2 separate regions of the Homo sapiens genome follow, and region 2 is linked to region 1. The links come from fine-mapping of genetic effects on gene expression. A gene starts in region 1. The other region holds a variant in brackets. All regions are shown on one strand. Distances are from middle to middle. Region 1 holds the start of PWWP3A (PWWP domain containing 3A, DNA repair factor). Region 2 overlaps NDUFS7 (NADH:ubiquinone oxidoreductase core subunit S7).

What was found. PIP is the estimated chance that this variant, and not a neighbour inherited with it, causes the effect.
Region 2: its variant is fine-mapped to the expression of PWWP3A in whole blood (TOPMed, PIP above 0.99).

The regions. Positions count from the first base shown.
Region 1 is chr19:1,350,091-1,361,662 of GRCh38, forward strand. PWWP3A (PWWP domain containing 3A, DNA repair factor) reads left to right here and starts at 4,869. Exons shown (of 14, transcript NM_001369789.1): 1 at 4,869-5,045; 2 at 6,234-6,359; 3 at 6,919-7,004; 4 at 8,304-8,374; 5 at 10,046-10,942. The coding sequence starts at 6,303. RefSeq lists silencers at 4,528-4,627, 4,613-4,773, 4,658-4,947, 5,008-5,077 and an enhancer at 4,670-5,555.
Region 2 is chr19:1,390,004-1,400,391 of GRCh38, forward strand. It overlaps NDUFS7 (NADH:ubiquinone oxidoreductase core subunit S7), which reads left to right. Exons shown (of 8, transcript NM_024407.5): 5 at 868-1,047; 6 at 1,116-1,162; 7 at 3,239-3,327; 8 at 5,388-5,581. The coding sequence ends at 5,485. GAMT (guanidinoacetate N-methyltransferase) reads right to left here. Exons shown (of 6, transcript NM_000156.6): 2 at 9,790-9,935; 3 at 9,521-9,584; 4 at 9,125-9,192; 5 at 8,913-9,023; 6 at 7,023-7,496. The coding sequence ends at 7,356. Among named protein-coding and RNA genes, the nearest start is that of GAMT, 6.3 kb to the right of the region's middle. RefSeq lists enhancers at 6,449-6,498, 6,599-6,648. The variant G/A (reference allele first, on the strand shown) is at 7,345.

The DNA of each region.
Region 1 (11,572 bases):
GTGGAGGATCGCTTGAGGTCAGAAGCTCGAGACCAGCCTGGGCAACAGAGCAAGACTGTGTCTCTACAGAAAATTTCTTTTTCTTTTCTTTTTTTTTTTTTTTGAGACAGAGTCTCAGTCTGTTGCCCAGGCTGGAGTGCAGTGGCGTGATCTTGGCTCACCGCAACCTCTGCCTCCCAGGTTCACGCCATTCTCCTGCCTCAGCCTCCCCAGTAGCTGGGACTACCAGCGCCTGCCACCATGCCTGGCTAATTTTTTTGTATTTTTAGTAGAAACGGGGGTTTCACCATGTTAGTCAGGCTGGTCTCAAACTCCTGACCTCAGGTGATCCACCGCCTCAGCCTCCCAAAGTGCTGGGATTACAGATGTGAGCCACTGTGCCCAGCCACTTTTCTTTTTTCTTTTTTTTTTTTTTGAGTTGAGGTCTCATTCTGCTGCCCAGGCTGGAGTGTAGTGGCACCATCTCGGCTCGCTGCAATCTCTGCCTCCTGGATTCAAACAATTCTCCTGCCTCAGCCTCCCAAGCAGCTAGGATTACAGGCACCTGCCACCACGCCTGGCTAATTTTTGTATTTTTAGTAGAGACGAGGTTTCACCATGTTGGCCAGGCTGGTCTTGAACTCCTGACCTCGTGATCCGCCCACCTTGGCCTCCCAAAGTGCTGGAATTACAGGCGTGAGCCACCGCACCCGGCTGGCCTTTTTTTTTTTTTTTTTTTTGTAGCAACAGGGTCTCCCTGTATAGCCCATGCCTGAGTGCAGTGGAGCGATATCGGCTCACTGCAGCCTCGACCTTCTGGGCTCAAGTCATCCTGGTCTCCCCAAGACAATCCTGACTTCCGTGGAGCCCCTGGGTCTCCAGAAACACCAGTGACAGCCCTCTCTCTTGTGTTCTGAATTTCCTATGTAAAAACCTGGCTTGTGTGAAGGGGGCTGGTAATTGGACATCTGTAAAGCTCCTTGGCAGTGGGGCCCCGTCAAAGCTGGCAGTCGTAGCTCCGTGTTAACAAGGTCAAGGTCTGGTCAAGGTTTCCAGTGTGGTCCCCTTATGGCCTAATTAGGGACTTGAATGGGTTGGAACACTGATTGAGTTTCAGTTCAGAGGCTATTTTGATGTTACAGTTCAATCACTTTAGAAAATATAGATTCAGTTCTGGTTCAGGCTGGAACACTAGGTGTGTGTCTGTGTGTTTTAATCTTTGATTTAGTTCATGGTTCAGTATCAAACTTAATACATTTTTCACCCATCATCAGATTAACAAAGATGAGAGAAATAATCACGCCCGGCCCTCGTGCAGGGTGTTAGATGGGCCGTGGTAATGCGGGGCTGCCGCCAATGTGAATTGGTACCTTTCTGAAAAGCAACTTGACGTCATCTGTCAAACGCCTTGAGGATGTCCAGACCCTCAGACCCAGCAATTTCCGCCTCCAGGGATTTATCATAAGGATATAATCAGAGGTGCACCAAGATTTACATAGGAGAGTTGCTTTCTGCGGCCTTATTTAAATCATGGAAAAATCAGGAATCGCTGAAATGTCTCACAATAGCGGTCTGGTTAATAAAAATACGATAGCGACCGTTGTCTTACAACGCCTTGAGTAGCAGAGGGAATTGTGTATGATACATTTCCCGCAGAAGGGGAAACGTTTTAATTAAAGCCATAACTGACGTGGAGCCGGAAGAAGCCTGTGAAAGGACGTTCTTGCATCGACCTGCCAGGCCTTTGTGCTGCCTTAGAAGCAGCCGCTTTATTGCAACTGTGAATCTCTATGGTTTAGGAGAGAAATTCATTCTTTAAACAAAATTTGAGTGAGCGCTCGGTGACACGGACTGGGCTTACAATGGTGAAGAAAACAGGACTCAGGGAACTCACAGACGAATGGAGAAGACATTTAATAAAATAAGACCTAACATTTCACCACTGGCACAAGTACTTTAAAAGCATTAATTTATTTAATACCAGAGCCAGAGGCCAGGCACGGTGGCTCACGCCTGTCATCCTAGCGTTTTTGGGAGGTCGAGGTGGGTGGATTATGAGGTCAGGAGTTCGAGACCAGCCTGGCCAACATGGTGAAACCGTCTCTACTAAAAATACAAAAAGTAGGCGGGTGTGGTGGCGTGTGCCTGTAATCCCAGCTACTGGGGAGGCTGAGGCAGGAGAATGGCTTGAACCTGGGAGGTATAGGTTGCAGCGAGCCGAGATTGCACCAGTGCACTCCAGCCTGGGCAACAAGAGCAAGACTCTGTCTCTAAAACAAATTAAAAAAATATACCTCATTTGAGCTCATAGGAGCTTTGAACTCCTGGGCTCAAGGAATCCTCCCATCTTGGCCTCCCAAAGTGTTGGGATTACAGGCGTGAGCTGTTGCCACGCTGTGTTTTGTTTTGTTTTGTTTTTGAGACAGGGTCTTGCTTTGTCATGTGGAGTGCAGTGGTGCAATCACGGTTCACTGCAGCCTCGACCTCCCAGACTCACGCAATCCTCCTGCCTCAGCCTCCTGGGTAGCTGGGACTACAGGTGTGCATCACCATGCCTGGCTAATTCTTTTTTGTTTTTGTACAGGCAGGGTCTCACTATGTTGCCCAGGCCTGTCTCCAACTCCTGGGCTCATGTGATCCTCCCATCTCAGCCTCCCAAAGCACCTCCCAAAGCACAGGCGGGAGCCACCGCACTGGGCCCCACTCCTCCTGAGGCAGAGGCTTGGATCTGGCACAGCACCCCTTCTGCTGTATTCCCTGGGCTGAAGCAGGTCACACGCCAGCCCAGGATTTTTTCTTTTTTCTTTTTGAGACAGAGTCAGTCTTGCTCTGTCACCCACATTGGAGTACACTGACGCGATCTCAGCTCACTGCAACCTCCGCCTCCTGGGTTCAAGAGATTTTCTTGCCTCAGCCTCCCAAATAGCTGGGATTACAGGTGCACACTACCACGCTCAGCCAATTTTTGTATTTTTAGTAGCGATGGGGGTTTCTCTATATTGGCCAGGCTGGTCTCGAACTCCTGACCTCAGGCGATATGTCTGCCTTGACCTCCCAAAGTGCTGGGATTACAGGCCTGAGCCACCGCCAGCTCAGATTTAACGTGAGAGGATATCAGAGACATAGTTCTTGCCAACCACCCACAGACCACCACCCCCATTTTATAGACAAACTGAGACGGCTGAGCAAGGTGGATCCTACCTGTGATCCCAGCACTTTGGGGAGCCGAGGTGGGAGGATCACTTGAGCCCAAAAGGTCGAAACCAGCCTGGCCAGCATAGCAAGACCCTCTCTCTACAAAAAATAAAAATCTTAGCCAGCCATGGTGGTGCGCACTGTGGTCCCAGCTACTCCGGAGGCTAAGGTGGAAGGATCATTTGAGCCTGGGAGGTTGAGGCTGCAGTGAGCTATGACTGGGCCGCTGCACTCCAGCCTGGGCCACAGAGCCAAACTTCGACTCAAAAATGTAAATAAAAATAAAAAACAAGTGAAAGGTGAACATTCTCAACTTGATAAAGGAAAAAAAATCAGTCGCTGAGGTTGCTGGGATCGACCGAAGACACAAACCTTCTATTCCCGCAAATGTGAGAAGGAAAAAGAAGTTAGAGCCGGCTTTGCTGTCGCCCCTTCCCCTTGAAGAGTCGGGGCCAGTGCGTGACGAATGCTGCTGTAAGTCTTTTAATTTTTTCCTTTTTTGAGACGAAGTCCCACTCTGTTGCCCAGGCTGGAGTGCAGTGGCGCGATCTCCCCTTACTGCAAGTTCCGCCTCCCGGGTTCAAGCGATTCTCCTGCCTCAGCCTCCTGAATAGTTGGGATTACAGGCATCGCCACCACGCCCGGCTAATTTTTCTATTTGTAGTAAAGACGGGGTTTCACCATGTTGGCAATGCTGGTCTCGATCTCCTGACCTCATGTGATCTGCCCGCCTCGGCCTCCTGCTGGGATTACAGGAGTGAGCCTGTATCTTTTTTATAGAGATGGGGTCTCGCCATGTTGCCCAGGCTGGTCTCCAATCCTTGGGCTTAAAGGATCTGCCAATTCGGCCTCCTTTGCTTTTAAAGAACTGTGGGGGCTGGCGAGGTGGCTCAGGCCTGTAATCCCAATACTTTGGGAGGCCGAGGCAGGCCGATCACCTGAGGTCAGGAGCTTGAGAGCAGCCTGATCAACATTTAGTATTCTCTACTAAAAATACAAAAATTAGCCGGGTGGGGTGGCGCGCACCTGTAATCCCAGCAGGAGGAGGCTGCAGTGAGCTGAGCTCGCGCCACTGCACTCCAGCCTGGGTGACAGAGCGAGACTCCGTCTGAAAAAAAATCAAAAACCGCTCAGGGAAAGGCCTGACACTGATGGAGCGACCGCTCCGGGGCTCCCGCCACCCGCGGCTGTTTCCGGTGCCCCCCGGGGTCTTGGGACCCTCCCAAGGTGGGTCCTGCTCTAGTTCAGAAGCTTATGACGCCTTTGCGGGGATGCCTGGCTTTGGGATCGGTTGGGATCTGCTGGAATTGGGTCCGTGGCGCGCAGCTCCCGGGCTGGGAGGTGCCGTAGGACCTGGAAGATTCTCGAAAGTTCTGGAAGGTTCTCTCAGGGATCGCCGCGGGCGGGGGAGCCTGTTTTCCCACCGAGACCCGCGAGGGCGGTGTCCGGGGTCTGACTGCAGGACAAAGGGCCGGGAGCGCGGGAGGGCGGCGCCCGGGAGCGGCCACACATGCCCCGCCAACCGGTCTCCTCAGGCAGCACTCCCGGGAAAAAGGGGTAGACGCGCGGCGGAAGGGGCGGGGCCGGCGCGCGGCCGTGGACGCCGGAGAGGGCGAGGCCGGCGCTCCTTGGGAGCGCGCGCGTCCCATTGGGCAGCGGGCGGAAGGGGGCGGAGCTTGGCGCCGCCGCGAGGCAAGCCCCGCCCCCGGCCCCGCGGGGAGCGGCGGCGGCGGCGGCGGCGGCGGTGGCGGAGGCGGTGAGCGCGGGCGGCGCGGACGGCAGCGGTTGGCGGGCGGGTCCTCCGCTGTTGCGGCCGCTGCGGCCTCCTTGCCCGGGCTTGGGGCGCCGCGCTGGGGAAAGCCGGGGGCCCGGTGAGCCCGCGGGATGCGTCCCCTCGGTTCCGCCGGGCGGGGCTGAGGCGAGGAGGCCGGGCCTGGGGGGAGGGGGGGCCCCGGCCTAGAGACTCCTCCGGGAGCGCCCGGTCCCTACCGCCGTGGGTCCCCCACTCTGCCCGGACCCCCTTTTCCGCCCCTGGCGCCGTGGGCCCCTCACTTTGCCTGGACTCCTTTTCCCGTCCCTGCCGCCCGGACCCCATCTCTTGCTTGGACCCGCTCCCCCATCCTTGCTGCCTGGACCCCTATCTCCTTCCCTGGATCCCCCTCACGTCTGCCGTGAACCCCATCTCTTGCCTGGACCCCCATCTGCTTCCCTGGATTCCCCACCCCCAACCGTGAAATCCCCCATCCCTGCCACCTGGACCCTCCGCTCCACCTCCTCCGTGAGCCCTCGTTCTTGCTCCCTGAGCCCCCCCGCTTCTGCTGTGACCCCCTTCTCTGTTGCCTGAATCCCCCGTTCCTGCAAGCCGCAACCCTTCCTCCGCCATGAAATCTTGTCCCTGCTGCCTGGACCCCTACTTCTGCTGCTGCTGTGATCCCCTCTCTTGCTGGAAACGCCACCCCTACCTCTGCTGGGAACCTCCTCTTCCCTGCTGCGGGGACGCCCCCCTCCGTTGTTGCTAAATTCCACCCCCACCCCCAAACCTCCTTTTCATTTCTGTCAACAGCCAAGCCAGTCCTTCCCATTGATGCTGTGAACGGTCTGCAGCTGTCCCCGTTCTTTCAGGGACATGGCAGCCAAAAGAGCAGTCGTTTTTCCGCTCTTATTTTTGTGTGTGTGCTGTGGTCAACTGTTAACTCCCCAAATTGGGGAGGGTTGTGAGCTTTGATTGTGTAAAATGCCTCTCCTGCCGAGGTCGGAGGCAGGTCTTCCGCACGGAGATGATTTATTCAGGAGCCTTTTAAAACTGATCTAGATAGAACCTTTGGGAGGGACTGTGCTGTATTTTATTTATGAAAAAATGCAGGCGCCTCCCTGGATACCGAGCCCCGTCGTTTCTGTTTGTCAGTCTGCTTTTTGGCATTGAGCATCTCAATGCAAGATTGTGGAATTAAACCATCTACTTGAGGCTAAGTCGAGCTAACCTTTGCCCCTGAGGGCTGTGTCTGCGTTAACATCGCCAGCAAACAGTTGTATAAACCACCGTGCAAATTTCGTTCCAGGACACATTGGCGTGAGACCTGGGAGTACGTTGTGCCAAATCATTGCCACTTGCCACATGAGTGTAAATGATGGCGGATGCCAAGTATGTCCTCTGCCGATGGGAAAAGCGATTATGGCCTGCGAAGGTGACAGCCATTATTCTGTAACTTCAGGACTTAGAAATGACTTTCGGGTGACAAGTAAAATCTTGATCAGGAGATACCTAGGATTTGCTTCAGTGAAATAATTGAGCCAGAACACGGTTGGCACTGATTCTCGTTCCCCATTTAATGGGGTTTTGGTCTAGTGCTTCCAAGGTTACACTTCCAGAAATGTCTTTTTTTTTTCACACTAAAAAAAAAAAAAGAATCAGCTGTAAAAAGGCATGTAAGGCTGTAACTCAAGGAAAGATCTGGCAAGCAGCCCTGTGATAGTAAATTATGGTCGTGTTCAGGGAATGCTTTCCAGCAATTCAGTAGACAGTGCTCAGCTGCAATGCAAAAGCCCAGGTCCTTGTCTTTGTCTGCCACTGGCCTCTCATGCCTCAGTTTCCCCATCTGTGAAACAATGGGGATTGGACCAAATATCTGAAATCCCATGGTTATAGGCCTTCAGGATTACCTGCTGCATTTGTGCTAAAGTTTGCCACTGTTTCTCACTGTCAGCTGTTGTAATAACAAGGATTTTCTTTTGTTTTAAATGTAGGTTTTGGCCCGAACCGCGACTTCAACAAAAAATAAGAGAAGAAAGGAATATTTTCTAGCTGTGCAAATCCTCTCTCTAGAGGAAAAGTTAAGTGTTGTGTTGTTTTAATACTGTTTTTTCCCGTGTAGATTTCTGATACTTCAATCCCCTACTCCCCCAAAACAGTTGAAGCCCAGCCCACTCTTAATGGGCTTATTCACCATTTGTGTAATTCATTAATGCTCATAATAACCTCATGAGAAAGCAACTAGTTTGATTTTATGTCAGTTTGGAAGCTGAAGATCCAAACGAGGCATTCTGTGAGATCTATGGAGAGATTGGTACAAACACTGAATACATGTAAATTATACTCAGGGTAGACCCTATTTGTGGTTAAAATAGGGATATTTCCTTTTTTTTTTTTTTTTTTGACTGTTTCTTAATCAGTGCCATGCCAGGAAAATAGGGATGTTTCCTTCCCAGAGATCTGTGTGTCTTTTTTCAGAAACGTCTGTGACAGGCCCATCAATTTTGAAATATTTGGTTTTTGAGCCTGTCACTCTAAACCAGCGTTTAACGTTCAAAAGGCAAATAACTGATGACCAGGCGGCACATTGTTCTGCTCCGTGAGTGTCTGGCACTGGGAAAGGTGTAGATTGTCTAGAATGACAGCAATTCCGACGCCCCAGTCAGTCCTGCGTGATTGTGGCGAGGGCGCGTCTGGCACCGGGAAGGTGTAGATCATCTAGAATGACGGCGATTCCGACGCCCCGGTCAGTCCTGCGTGATTGGCGAGGGTGCATCTGTCGTGAGAATTCCCAGTTCTGAAGAGAGCAAGGAGACTGATCCCGCGTAGTCCAAGGCATTGGCTCCCCTGTTGCTCTTCCTTGTGGAGCTCCCCCTGCCCCACTCCCTCCTGCCTGCATCTTCAGAGCTGCCTCTGAAGCTCGCTTGGTCCCTAGCTCACACTTTCCCTGCGGCTGGGAAGGTAATTGAATACTCGAGTTTAAAAGGAAAGCACATCCTTTTAAACCAAAACACACCTGCTGGGCTGTAAACAGCTTTTAGTGACATTACCATCTACTCTGAAAATCTAACAAAGGAGTGATTTGTGCAGTTGAAAGTAGGATTTGCTTCATAAAAGTCACAATTTGAATTCATTTTTGCTTTTAAATCCAGCCAACCTTTTCTGTCTTAAAAGGAAAAAAAAAAAAAAACCATTCACCAGGGTTCTTGCTGCCTGTAACCTCAGGCAGATGAATTCCTAGTTGGCTGTGACTTTTGGTTTAAGTGGAAGGTTGAGGAGGAAAATGAAAATAATTCTTTTGTTATCTAAAGGAAAACATGTTTGAAAATGTCTTGGCGGCGTTGGCTGGTGGTGTGTAACGTCGATTTTGTCTCTGCAGAATTAAGGTGAAAAGCACTGAAGTTGAGATCCTAGAGAAGTCTCAAATTGAAGCCATTGCTTCCTCGTTAGGTAAGAGCGTATTTTTAAGTGGCCACTAGGTTTTCATAAAATAAGAGGTCATTTGGGAGAATGTGAAGGCTCAGCTTTCTGGGTAAAAATTCACCCTGTTCACCATGTTTTTCTTCATACAAGGGAACGCGAATCCCCTGAGCTGAAGGAGAAGGAAAAATGGATCCGCTTTCTTAAACCTTTCCAGAATTTGCCCCTAGAACCACTCCTATTCTTGACGCCCAGAATGGTCAGTGGTGAGCATCAAGGTCATCTCGTACCCCCGTGGCCTCCAGTACACAAGACGAGGAAGGACTTTGCTGCCATAAGGGGGGAGGTCCTCCTTTTTCCTTTCCTCTTCCTATAGTAAGATTTGCTGTGGTACTGTCGCTGCCTGGCCAGTCTGGTCTCAGCCCAAGGTTTGAGAAGCAGTTGGTTGTGTGTTTAAAATTCCAGAGCAGAGCCCAAGGGAGAGAACGGGTGGCCTGGCACTGGGGTTGGTGGCACCCATTGTTTGAGGCACTGTCATGGGGGGCACGAGGCAGGTCGGAAGTGGAGCTCTCGGCTTCCCATCCATCCGGGTGCGCTTTCTCCCAGGCCTTCAGTTTAGCACCCACCTCCTTTGCACACTGTGGGTGAGAAAAGCTTTGCCTGAGTCCAGCCGGGGACTGGTCATGCACATACATGACAAGTGAGGAGCACTGGTGACTGCCTGCCCCCTAGCCACAGTTGTGCAAACCCAAACCTGCCAGCCTTCCTTCTCAAAGTGGAACTGTTTATCCCATTTGCAAATAATTGTTTCTCTTGTGAAAAGATGGACCGGAATTCCTTCCAATGATGTTTATAAAATCAGGTCTATTTTCCTGTGTCTTCCGAAAAACAGCTCTTGTTTAAAGCAGGATCCATCTCTGCATAACTTAGGCCGGGCTGACCATCATCTTGGATGGCGTCGTCCTTGTTGGCGCAGATTGTGTTGGGGGGCTGGTTGTTTGTGGGCGCCTTTAATATTCAAAGGGGAGAATACTGTTCTGATTGAGGCATTATGCCCGCTGAGTTGTGATATTACATCCATCATCTTGTTCAAATAAATAGCGCCGTATCTATATGTCGGAATGAATAAATAAAAGTGCTGCAGCAGGGAGGTTGGGCTGGAAACCAGAGGCCCACGATGCTCTTTGCTGGCTTTGAAATGCCCTTGCAAAGAAGTATTGAAAATTTACCAGCCCACAATGAGTCTTTTAAATCTCCTTTTCCTTGCTACCACCAACCCCTGCACCAACCAAGAATACGTTGCCAGCAGAGTTCTTTATTTAGTTGGCATTGGTTTTTATTGACCCTGATTGAATTTGAAATTGTAAGGCTGAGAGAGGATTTGCAAAACATTTGAATACATTTTGCTCACGGTATTGTTTTGTAACTTGGAGGAATTTATCTTTTTAGCCAATCAGGTTAAGGTCAATAAATTTGGTTTTTAAAAAAATGAAGCCTCGAATCCCGGAATGAATAGCTGTCGTTCTGTAGCCTCGTCTCCTTTTTGGGAAAATGTAGGTGAGAAATGTTAGTCCTCCCCTTCAGTGATTTAGGTATGAAACTAGCCGTCAGAATGAGACAAGCGAGCTTCTAAAGCGATGCCGTGACCGCAGTGCCTGTGCAGTGAACGTAACCGGCATTGTGTATGTTCGGTCCTTGCAGCCTCACAGAATGAGGTTCCTGCGGCACCCCTGGAAGAACTGGCCTACAGACGGTCGCTTCGCGTGGCTCTGGACGTTCTGAGCGAGGGCTCGATTTGGAGTCAAGAAAGCTCTGCAGGGACAGGTAGAGCTGACCGGTCTCTGCGAGGGAAGCCCATGGAGCATGTCTCCTCGCCCTGTGATTCGAACTCCTCATCTCTTCCCCGCGGAGACGTGTTGGGCAGTTCCAGACCTCACAGGAGGAGGCCATGTGTGCAACAAAGCCTGTCAAGTTCGTTCACTTGTGAAAAGGACCCCGAGTGCAAAGTGGACCACAAGAAGGGGCTCAGGAAAAGTGAAAACCCAAGAGGCCCGTTGGTCCTCCCAGCTGGAGGTGGTGCCCAAGATGAGAGTGGGTCCAGAATCCACCACAAAAATTGGACTCTTGCAAGTAAGAGGGGAGGAAACTCAGCGCAGAAGGCTAGCTTGTGCCTGAATGGATCTTCCCTTTCAGAGGACGACACGGAGAGAGACATGGGGAGCAAAGGAGGCAGCTGGGCAGCCCCGTCCTTGCCCTCCGGGGTCAGGGAGGACGATCCCTGTGCCAACGCTGAGGGACACGACCCCGGTCTGCCGTTGGGCAGCCTCACTGCGCCCCCAGCCCCTGAGCCCTCGGCCTGCTCAGAGCCTGGAGAATGCCCTGCGAAAAAGAGGCCGCGCCTGGATGGCAGCCAAAGGCCGCCTGCCGTGCAGCTGGAGCCCATGGCAGCAGGGGCCGCACCATCCCCCGGGCCGGGGCCAGGGCCCAGAGAGTCTGTGACCCCGCGCAGCACCGCCAGGCTGGGCCCGCCTCCCTCCCACGCCTCTGCGGATGCAACCAGATGTCTTCCTTGCCCGGATTCCCAGAAGCTGGAGAAAGGTAAAAGTTTCTCGTGGAGGAGGAGAGCGCAGAGGGTGGAGTCCTGCTCCTCCGCAGCCAGACTGGGAGCCAGGCACGTGGGTGTTTTTGACCAGATTTTAATGAGATCGTTGCCAAAATAGACTTAGAGCAGAGACTTCCTCATTCCTTTTTGTCTGTCTCCCCACTGGGCTATAATTGCTTCAACTTCTAAATATTTGTCTTCTTATTTTTGTTTAGAAGGGAAGGGAGTTGAGTGAGTGGGGAGCCCGTAGAGGGGCGGCGGGCCACGATTGTCTGCGGCGCGGCTGGGAGCATTGTGGCTGTGCTGAGGCCGCAGCTGCGGCTGCACCCCGAGGATTAACTCTTTTAACGGAAGCAGTAACGCATTCCTATTAAATTGGGCAGCAATCTCAAAAGTGATTCACTCACTCAAAAGACTGACTTTTTAAAGAATTCCTGTGCAGATATATTTTTGTGTGGTTGCAGGCAAGCACTGTGACTTTTTTCCTTTTAACACTGTAGCATCCTTTATTTTTTAAATGCTAGTTCAGAAATCTTAATTACCACATGATCAAATGTCTGGAAATCTACTTGCTACAAACTTACCGCGCAGATATTTCAGTCTGTACTCTGAACTTCTTTCCTGAG
Region 2 (10,388 bases), 39 kb after region 1:
CCTGCCTCAGCCTCCTAAGTAGCTGGGACTACAGGTGCCCGCCACCACGCCCGGCTAATTTTTTGTATTTTTATTTTTAGTAGAGATGGGGTTTCACCGTGTTGGCCAGGATGGTCTCGATCTCCTGACCTCGTGATCCGCCCACCTCGGCCTCCCAAAGTGCTGGGATTACAGGCGTGAGCCACCACGCCCGGCTAATGCAGGATAGTTTCTAATGGAGGGAACCTGAGACATGGCCAGCGGCCGTCCCAACACAGGCTTCTGGCGGGCAGGTGGACCTGGCCATTTCTGCCCGGGCAGCCCTGCCTCACTCTGTAGCCTGACCCTGTCACCCGCCAACACATGCAGCAGGGCCCCTGCCAGGTCTCAGAGCCGCGTGCAGGGAGAGCGGGAACGGTGGGGGAAATGAGAAGCCACAGGGATGGAGGAGAGGGGAGGGAGTGGCCAAGGAGATCTGAGAGGGCTTCCTGGAGGCGTCGCACTTGGTATGTGGACCCAGATCTAGTTAACGCAGAGAGTTCCCGGTTAGACCTGCGCTACTACTCGCCTGTAGCCCACGCGCTCAGAGAGTGGCTGGAGCCCCCTGTTGAAATGGTGGGACTTAGGATACACTGGGTTCGAGGAACTATGTGATGAGGACAGATCTCACCCGTTTCTCTCTATTTTATGTATTTGAATGTGGCTGGTGGGGCGCGCTTTACAACTCTTGGGGCCCGGAGGCCACCTGCAGGAGCCGCTGTGCCTCTCACCTCTGCCGGCTGCCGCCCCGGGACATGAGTCGGGGGTTCTGGGTGCTCCACGTGGAGTCTCACGCTGGGCCACGCGGGGCTCCGGGGGTGGCGTCTGACCCGAGCCCGGCCTCCGCAGAGTTCTCTGTGGCCCATGACCTTCGGCCTGGCCTGCTGCGCCGTGGAGATGATGCACATGGCAGCACCCCGCTACGACATGGACCGCTTTGGCGTGGTCTTCCGCGCCAGCCCGCGCCAGTCCGACGTCATGATCGTGGCCGGCACACTCACCAACAAGATGGCCCCAGCGCTTCGCAAGGTAGGCCTCGTCCCAGCCGCCCAGCCGCCCCCAGAGTGAGCTGCGCACGGACCCCGCCTCTCTTCCAGGTCTACGACCAGATGCCGGAGCCGCGCTACGTGGTCTCCATGGGGAGGTGAGTGCAGGGCGGGGGGTCTCCAGGGACAGACGTAGCGTGAGTGCTGGCCTGGCCGTGCCCTGATGGCGCTTATCAAAAGTGTCATCTACATTCAGTGAAATCCCACGTGGTCCCGGCGCTGCCCTTCAGCCGTCTCGGTGCCTCCACCCTAGGCAGATGCGCTGGTGGGCCTCTCCCCAGAACGATTCCTCCCATCCACCCCCACGCAGCAGACCCCACATTCCGCCCAGTTCTCTGCTTTACTCACACATAAGTGATGACAGGTGCTGTAGATAGTTTTATAATCTCAGCCTTCTCACTTGCCATTAGTTTTTTTTCTTTTTTTTTTTTTTTTTGAGACAGAGTCTTGCTCTGTCAACCCAGGCTGGAGTGCGGTGGAACCATCTCGGCTCACTGCAACCTCCGCCTCCCAGGTTCAAGCAATTTTCCTGCCTCAGCCTCCCAAGTAGCTGGGATTACAGGCATGCACCACCACACCCAGCTAATTTTTGTATTTTTAGTAGAGACGGGGTTTTACCATGTTGGCCAGGCTGGTCTTGAACTCCCTCAGGTGATCCGCCTGCCTCGGCCTCCCAAAGTGCTGGGATTATAGGCATAAGCCACCACGCCTGGCCTTGCCCTCATTTTTTAGTCATTTCCCCGTAACATTGAAAGGTATTTAGTCTCTTAACATTTTAAAATATTTATTTATTTACTTAAAGATGGAGTCTAGCTCTGTCGCCCAGGCTGGAGTGCAGTGGCACGATCTCAGCCCACTACAACCTCCGCCTCCCAGGTTCAAGCGATTCTCCTGCCTCAGCCTCCCGAGTAGCTGGGATTACAGGCACCTGCCACCACACCTGGCCAATTTTTGTATTTTTAGTAAAGAAGAGGTTTCACCATGTTGGCTAGGATGGTCTCGATCTCCTGATCTCGTGATCCACCCACCTCAGCCTCCCAAAGTTCTGGGATTACAGGCATGAGCCACCATGCCTGGCCAATATTTATTATTTTTATTTTTTAGAGACAGAGTCTCACTGAGTTGCCCAGGCTGGAGTGCAGTGGTGCAGTCATAGCTCACTGCAGCCTTGACCTCCTGGGCTCAAGCGGTCCCCCAACCTTAGCCTCTCAGAGTGCTGGGATTACAGATGTACTCCACTGTGCCTACTTTTTAAAATTTCTGTAGAGATCAGGTCTTGATAAGTTTACCCTTTTAAAGCGAGCAGTTCAGTGGTTTTTAGGCCACCACCTCTAATTCCAGAACATTCTCATCACCCCCAAATGAAATGCTGTCCCCATCAGCAGTCACTCTGCATCCCCTTCCGAGCCCCGGTGCCCACACCTCCCCTCCCTGTCTCTGTGGATGGGCCCGTCCTGGACATTTCACAGAAACAGGATCACACGCCGCATGGCCTTCTGTGTCCGGCGTCTCTCACTGAGCGCGACGTCCTCAAGGTGCATCCGTGCTGTGGCCTGTGTCCGAGCCTCGTGCCTTTTCTTGGCTGAATAATATCCCACTGTGTGGACATATTACTAATCTAATTCTAAACAGTTAATTAGAATATTCCAGAGTTTTCATAACCGTCTCCCACTGCTGGGCATTCAGGGTATGTCCATTTTTACGGCTGTGGGAAGCAGTGCTGGGAGTGGAGTCTGTGTGGTCTCCTGGGGTTTCCAGCTCCCTGCCCCGGGTGGACCCCAGCGCCTCACTGACAGAGCCGGAATCAGGCGAGGGTGAGGCTCAGCCGCCCCATAGACAGGGGCTGGGTGTTGGCACTGTGGCTGTCTGAAGTGGCTTTTTGTTGACACATGTGATCTGACACATCCCAGCCCCGGGAATCGGTGGTCAGGAGCCCCCTCGGGAGGGGAGCACTTTTCCCCGAGTTATCAGCCACGTGTGAGCTTGCGCCCCACTGGTCCCACAGAGGCTCTGGGAGCCTGTGCGTGTTTGCTCATTGCTTCTCCGTGACAAGTTCCAGCCTCGTAGGTGCCTGGCCTGCAGTTGAAGGCGGGTGGGGATGGGGCGAGGCCTCGTGGAGGGAGGGTGGGCAGGCGGGTCTTCGGCACACTCCCCTCACGGTGCCTCCCCAACAGCTGCGCCAACGGAGGAGGCTACTACCACTATTCCTACTCGGTGGTGAGGGGCTGCGACCGCATCGTGCCCGTGGACATCTACATCCCAGGTAGGGCCGGGACCGCACCGCCCACGAGGGAGCTGGAGACAGGGCCAGCGCCACACGGAGCCCGGCGGCCCCTGTGAGGGAGTCCCACACCCCCAGCAGACGGCGGGCTCCCCCATCCTATGGATGGGCCGACTCGGAGCGCTGCCTCTTAGTGGAGCCTGTCCCCTGTGAGAAGTCGGCGATGTATTCAGGCATCAGAGGGATCAGAGGGAGCAGGGGAAGCTGAGTGGAATTCCTGACACACGCCTGGTTTACAGCAGTTTCATATGGTCCTACCTGGCACAAACCAAAGACCTGCAGTTAGAAATACCAAGCGAGAAGGTTCCTGGGGGCCAAGGACACTGTCCCGCGCCCTCAGCCTTACAGAAGGGCACGCAGGACTCCCTGGGACCCGGGGTGGCCGGATTTGGCAAATGAAAACGTGGGAGGCTTAGTTTGACTGTGAGGTTAGGGTGAATTTGACCATCAGGAAAACTGTTAGTAGTAATTGTTTAGTACGAGTATATCCCAACAATATTTGGGCTATACTGACACTAAAAAGAGCATTGGCTGCATACCTGAAATTCACATCGCACCGGGAACATTCTTTATATCTGGTGATCCCGTGGGACTCTTGCACCTCACGTGGTCCCACGAGGGCCATCCCCCCGGGCGTTCACCTTGACAGTGGTCCACGGTAGGCAGGCTTGGAGGTGGCGCTCATGTGGGACAGGGGACAGAGTCCTGTTCTTGGCCACCCTGTGCTGCGTGCGGCATTAGCTCATGCGCAGAGAGCCCAGCCCTGAGTCCCGAGTCTGGGGGTTTGGGCAAGCGAGAGGCACATCCTGGTGCCTCTCAAAAGTGGAGGAACAGGCTCTGACTTTGGATTCCGCTTCCCTGGAAAGGGCGTTGATTTGTTCAGCGTTCTGCACGGTTCAGGTCACCCCGGGGGCAGTGGAGAGGGCAGCCTGGGCCTCCCTGTGACTTGACAGCACAGAGAGGTCCATCCTGGGGTCAGGAGCTCTGCCCATGCCCCTGGCGTCTTCCCCTGCAGTGCAGACCAATGGGGCAAGTTGCGAGTGTGGACTGTACTCCTCCCTCCTTGCAGACTGAGCTCCTCCCTCCCTGGGGACCGCGCTCCTCCCTCCCTGCGGACTGTGCTCCCTGTCTGGGGACTGCGCTCCTCCCTCCTTGGGGACCGTGCTCCTCCCTCCCTCCCTGCGGACCGCGCTCCTCCCTCCCTGGGGACCGCGCTCCTCCCTCCCTGCGGACCGCGCTCGGCCCTCCCTGGGGACCGCGCCCCTCCCTCCCAGCGGACCGCGCTCCTCCCTCCCTGGGGACCTCGCTCCTCCCTCCCTCCCTGCGGACTGTGCTGCTCCCTCCCTGCGGACTGTGCTTCTCCCTCCCTTGGAGCAGCCTGGACTTGCCAGAGCTCTGCCAGGTGGGGCCTGGCCGCCCTTTCCCAGGCCCTGCAGTGGCCTTGTCCTTTCTCACCTGTTTCCACTCCTGCTGTCCCCGTTGGGCCCTGGGCTTCGTCCTCTTGCTCAAGCCCTTTGTTCTGAACCTGCGTGGCAGCCGGGACTGGGGGATCCCCAGCAAAGAGCTCTGGCTTGGGGCTCAGAAAGAGGGTCATCGGGTCCTCGTGGGATGCCCGGGCTCTGGGCCACCTCCCCTCCCTCCGCCCAGCCTCCCTGCCTCCATCTCCGTCCAGGGCAGCCCCGGGCCCTGCTCCCCACTGCTAAGTGTGTCTGCTGAGCGCTGGCCCCCATTGAGTCCTGAGGGCTGGGGCCGGGGGCCGGGTTAGTGAGGTCAGCGTCTTGTCCGAGAGGTCCCTGTGACAGCCCGGGATGAGCCACGGGTGGAGGGCAGTGGGGCCTTGCCCAGGGGAGGACCCCACTCTTCCTGCAGGGACCTCCCCTGCGCCGGCTCCCAGTCCCTGGCACTGCGCCCACCCAGGGCTGTCAGCCTCCACCTTCAGAGGCCGGCCCGGGAAACCCTTCCAAAGCCGAGCCGGCTGCGCTGTGCACGCGGTCACGCGGGCTCCGGCTGCGGGAAGCGAGACTGAGGCAAGGTCCCTGCAGGCTGCCCACCTACGGCCGAGGCCCTGCTCTACGGCATCCTGCAGCTGCAGAGGAAGATCAAGCGGGAGCGGAGGCTGCAGATCTGGTACCGCAGGTAGCGCCGCCGCCGCCGCCGCCGGAGCCTGTCGCCGTCCTGTCCCCAGCCTGCTTGTGTCCCGTGAGGTTGTCAATAAACCTGCCCTCGGGCTGCCGCCTCCCAGTGTGGTGTGTGGGTGAAAGGAGCCGGGGACGTGGGGGGATCACAGACCCCCTGCGGCGTGCCGCCCTTGGGCTGGGGGCGGTTGGAGCAGAGCCGGGGGCAGAGACGGGCACTGTGCCTGCCAGCAGGGTCCTTTCCCGCTGCTCTGCGAAGACCCTGGGGTGGACATCGTGGCCCAAAGTCCCGAGCGTGGAAGGCCGCACACCCATCCTTCCTGGGAGGGCCCTGACTCAGTCTCCCTCTATGCCCTAAGGCAGGCTGAGCAAAGCCCGTCTGAGCCTGCCCCGGGGTTCAGAGTGTGGCCTGTGGCCTGCGTGTGGACTTGGGCAGGTCGCCACTGCCCTCTGGCCCATTTCCAGGCGGTGGCATGGGCTGGTTAGCTGAGGGCTGGGGCCAGGGAGATGGGGAGGTGGCACCTGGTCCAAACCAAAGGGCTGCAGGGCAGGACTGTGAGCCTCACAGGCTGTCTGACCCCACTTTGGGGACCCTCTCCACCCAGGGCTTTCGGGGAACCCTGACTCCACCCCACCAGCCCCTTCATCCGTCGAAGTCCAGGCCTCATCAGGGACGTGCATTCATTCAGCAAACGTCCCATCTTCCTGTGTTCAGCGCCAGATGCCGCCGGTGCTGGGACCTCGCTCTGCAGGCCCACCCTGCATGCCTGCTGCACACCAGGGACAGTTCTGGGGATCGGCAGTTATGACGGGCCAGGCTGGGATGGGGCCCGGGAGACTGGGGCGGGGGTGGGGAAGAGGCACCCAGCCCAGCCGGGTCAAGCAGCCTGGAAGCAGGACATGCTGGGGTGGGGACAGGGCGTCAGCCAGCGGAACAGCAGCCCTGGGCCAGAGTGCAGAGCACAGGAGCCGGCCTTCTCTCAGGGCAAGGAGGTCAGTGGAGGGGGCGAGCAGGACGGCCCCAGGAAGATGGGCGGGCTGCACACATGTGGATGCAGGGGGCAAAGTGGGAGGCATGGGGTGACCAGCTGGGCACAAGGGCACAGACAGGCAGGACCCGGGATGTTCCTGGGGCTGGGCAGGTGGGGCTGCCCCTGCAATGGGCCCAGCAGGGGCGATGCCTCCTGAGAGGAAACCACATCTGGAAATGGGAGGCTTGGGGAACGGGGCTGTCAGCAGCCACGCCCCTCCTGGGGCGGGAGGAGGGGAGCTCAGGGTGTGCTGGGGCGGGCAGAGAAGTGGGTTCCTGCCTGGGGTGGGCAAAGATCCTTGTCCCACCCACACCCCGGCCGTGGTGCTGCCACCCCCTGAGACCCTGACCTAGTTACCCCCTTCCCTGACCCCACTGCAAAGGGTCAGGTGGCTTTCATCTGAGGAAGGGACATCGGGCATCAGCTGGAGATGTCTGCTATGGGCAAGACAGTGGGGGGGGCGGGGCGGATCCTGGGGCCGCTCAGAAACCTGGAGGGGAGTCACCCACTTTTCCTGTGTCCATGGGATGGGCGGGAGGTGAGGGAGCAGCCGCTGGAAGTAACAGTCGCACGCTCACTGCCGACTGGCCAAGCCCAGCGCCGGCGTTTACTTCACCTCAGGGACCCTGCAGTGGGCAGCAGTGACCCTCACAGAGAAGCTGGGAAAGCTGCTGGTGACACACAGCTGGGATCAGCCCTGGGCTGGTGGGACCCCTCACAGAGAAGCCGGGAAAGCTTCTGGTGACACACAGCTGGGATCAGCCCAGGGCTGGTGCGACACCCTGGACTCCCGGCCAGGAAGGCACGGAGGAGGGCATGGGTGTGGCCGGGCC[G/A]GGGTGGGGGCTCAGCCTTTGGTCACCAGGGGCGTGATCATCTGTGGGAAGGCGTAGTAGCGGCAGTCGGCCGGTGGGACCAGCGCCATCACCTCCGTACGGATGTTCTCCCTCCGGAAGCCGGCCTCCAGCAGCGCGGGCACCTGCGTCTCCTGGTCGGGGATGGCACCAGGTCACCTCTGAGGGCCATGGGGGTCACGTGCACCCTGGCGCCCACCCCTCATTGAAGAGTGTTTACAGATGGCAAGGCCCGGGTGGGCGGCTGCAGCTCCCGTGGGCACGTGGCAGGGCAGCCCTGGAAGCCCAGGTGTGAACGGGAATCTCCAGCTCCCCAGTGCGGGCAGCAGCTTCCCGGCTGTCCTGGAACCCCAGCCCCACACTCGAGCCACCCCCGGGCACCTACTCCACAGTTCTCCAGACCTTGCCAGTGTGGCGGGTGGAGCCAAAGAATCACACCAGAAAAAGAACACAGGCCACTAGTTCCCATTTTGGAAGAAAAGCTGCCCCAGGGGCCACAGGCACCCAGCCGGCTCTCACAACAGCAGCCCAGGGCAACCACATAGAGCCCTTCTCAGATAGGCCGCCTCCACCAGGCAGAGGGAACAGCGAGACAAGCACTGCTGAACCAGCAAAGACAGCCAGGTGGAGGCAGCTGGAGGGAGGGGAACACGCAGGGCTTAGGCTGAACCACAGGGCACTGGGGAGCCATGGGAGGTTGTTGAGCTGGTGAGGGACTTTGATTTCCATTTTTTTTGTTTTTGTTTTGTTGAGATGGAGTCTCGGTCTGTTGCCCAGGCTGGAGTACAACGGTGCAATCTCGGCTCACAGCAACCTCCGCCTCCCATGTTCAAGTGATTCTCATGCCTCAGCCTCCCGAGTAGCTGGAATTACAGGCGCCCGCCACCACGCCTGGCTAACTTTTGTATTTTTAGTAGAGATGGGATTCTGCCATGTTGGCCAGGCTAGGCTCAAACTCCTGGGCTCAAGTGATCCACCCGCCTTGGCCTTCCGAAGTGCCGGGATCACAGGTGTGAGCCACCACGCCCAGCCTGATTTCCATTTTTTTTTTAAATTTTCTTTCTTTCTTTCTTTCTTTCTTTTTTCTTGAGACAGGGTCTGGCTCTGTTACCCAGGCTGGAGTGCAGTGGTTCGATCTGGGCTCACTGCAACCTCTGCCCCTGGGGCCCAAGCAATCCTCCTACCTCAGCCTCCCAAGTAGCTGGGAGTACAGGCACACGCCACCACGCCCAGCTAGTTTTTTGTATTTTTTTTTTTTAGGAAAGATGAGGTCTTGCTCTGTAGCCCAGGCTGGTCTTGAACTCCTAGGCTCAAGCAATCTGCCCACCTCGGCCTTCCACAGTGCTGGGATTATAGACCTGAGCCACTGCTCCTGGCAGCCACTGCGCCAGGCAAAGGACTTTGATTTCTAAATGAACCAGCACAGTCCAGCCCACCCAGGGGGTCAGGAAGGGACCCTCCCCAGGTAGCAAGGTGGCTCCAGCAGCCCCTTCCCACCCCCATCCAAGGTCACTTCCTGGAGACCCATGGGGAACTTCAGGTGGGCGCACCTCAAACATGATGGTGATGTCTGAGTACTTGGACTTCATCAGCTCCCCCCAGGAGGTGAGGTTGCAGTAGGTGAGGACGCCCCCCGGCTTCAGCAGGCGAAAGGCGTGGTTCTGTGGAAGGGGAGTGGCCAGTGGTCAGGACGGAGGTGGGGGTGTGGGCAGAGGGGCTTCCCCGAGGGCCTCCCGCATCCCAGCAAGTCAGAGAGAACCACCTTGATGAAGTTGAACTGGTGTGTGTGCCAGGTCTCCTCCGAGAGTGGGTACGTGTCGTACAGGATCCCTGCACGGAGAACAGAAGCCCACGCGGTCAGGGCCGGGCTCAGCGCCTCACCCAGCCTCACCCGGCTCATCCCCCAGCGGGTGGAGGTGCAGTGAGACGGGGCCGTGGGTAGAGGTGGGGCTCCCACACAGGCTTGAGAACCCCGAGATCGCCTCCAGGGCCCCTCCGTGAGCATGCCCATCCCCGGTGCTCCGCCATCCCACAGCCAGGCCCACACCCACTTGGGCTCTGTCCCCCCAGTGCACATCAGAGGGACCCCCACAAGCAAAGGAGGGGCTGCATTGGAGCTGGGGAGGCCCACCCTGTGATACGTCCCCTCACCCCTCACCATCAAAGTGACCGTCAGGCAGGGTGGGTGCCACATCCTCCCACAGGCCTTTCAAGGGGATGACCTTGCAGAGGGGAAAAGAAAAAGAGAGGACAGGGTAGAGAGGTCCCCAGGATCTCCCCACCTGCAGAAAGGGAGCGGCCAGGGGGACTCCCGAGAGAGAAGACCACCTCCTCCACCTCTGACAGCCCCAGGCCCCCAACCCCCAGGAAGCAGTGCCCTCACCCCAAGGAGTGGGGGTCCTGGAGGGCCTGCGGGCAGAGGGGCACCTTGTGTGTCTGCCGTGGGGCCCAGTCCCGGAGCCGCTGGAAGACGCCGTCATTGCACTCGATGATCCAATGCTCATCAATGGGCGCCTCCTGCACCTTTGACGCTGCGATGGCCATGCCAAAGCCCACCTCCAGGACCCGGCCCCCTGGGCAGACACAGGGCGCCTGGCATCACTAGGTGGGGCGGGCTTAGGAGGCTGCCTGGAGGAGGGGCACAGGGCAGGGCAGGGCTGGGGAGACTGCCTGGAGGAGGGGGCGCAGGGCTGGGCTGGGGGTCTGCCTGGAGGGGGGCGTGCAGAGCAGGGCTGGAGAGGCTGCCTGGAGGAGGGGGTGTGGGGCAATGCTGGGGAGGCTGCCTGGAGGAGGGGGTGCGGGGCAGGGCTGGAGAGGCTGCCAGGAGGAGGGGATGCAGGGCTGGGGAGGCTGTCTGGAAGAGGGGGTGCAGAGCAGGGCTGGGGAGGCTTCCTGGAGGAGGGGGCACAGGGTAGGGCAGGGCTGAGCTGGGGGTCTGCTTGGAGGAGGGGGTGCAGGGCTGAACTAGGCTATGTGAGTCACATTTGCCACAGGACGGGAGGGCACCCTGGGCCAGCATGGACAGA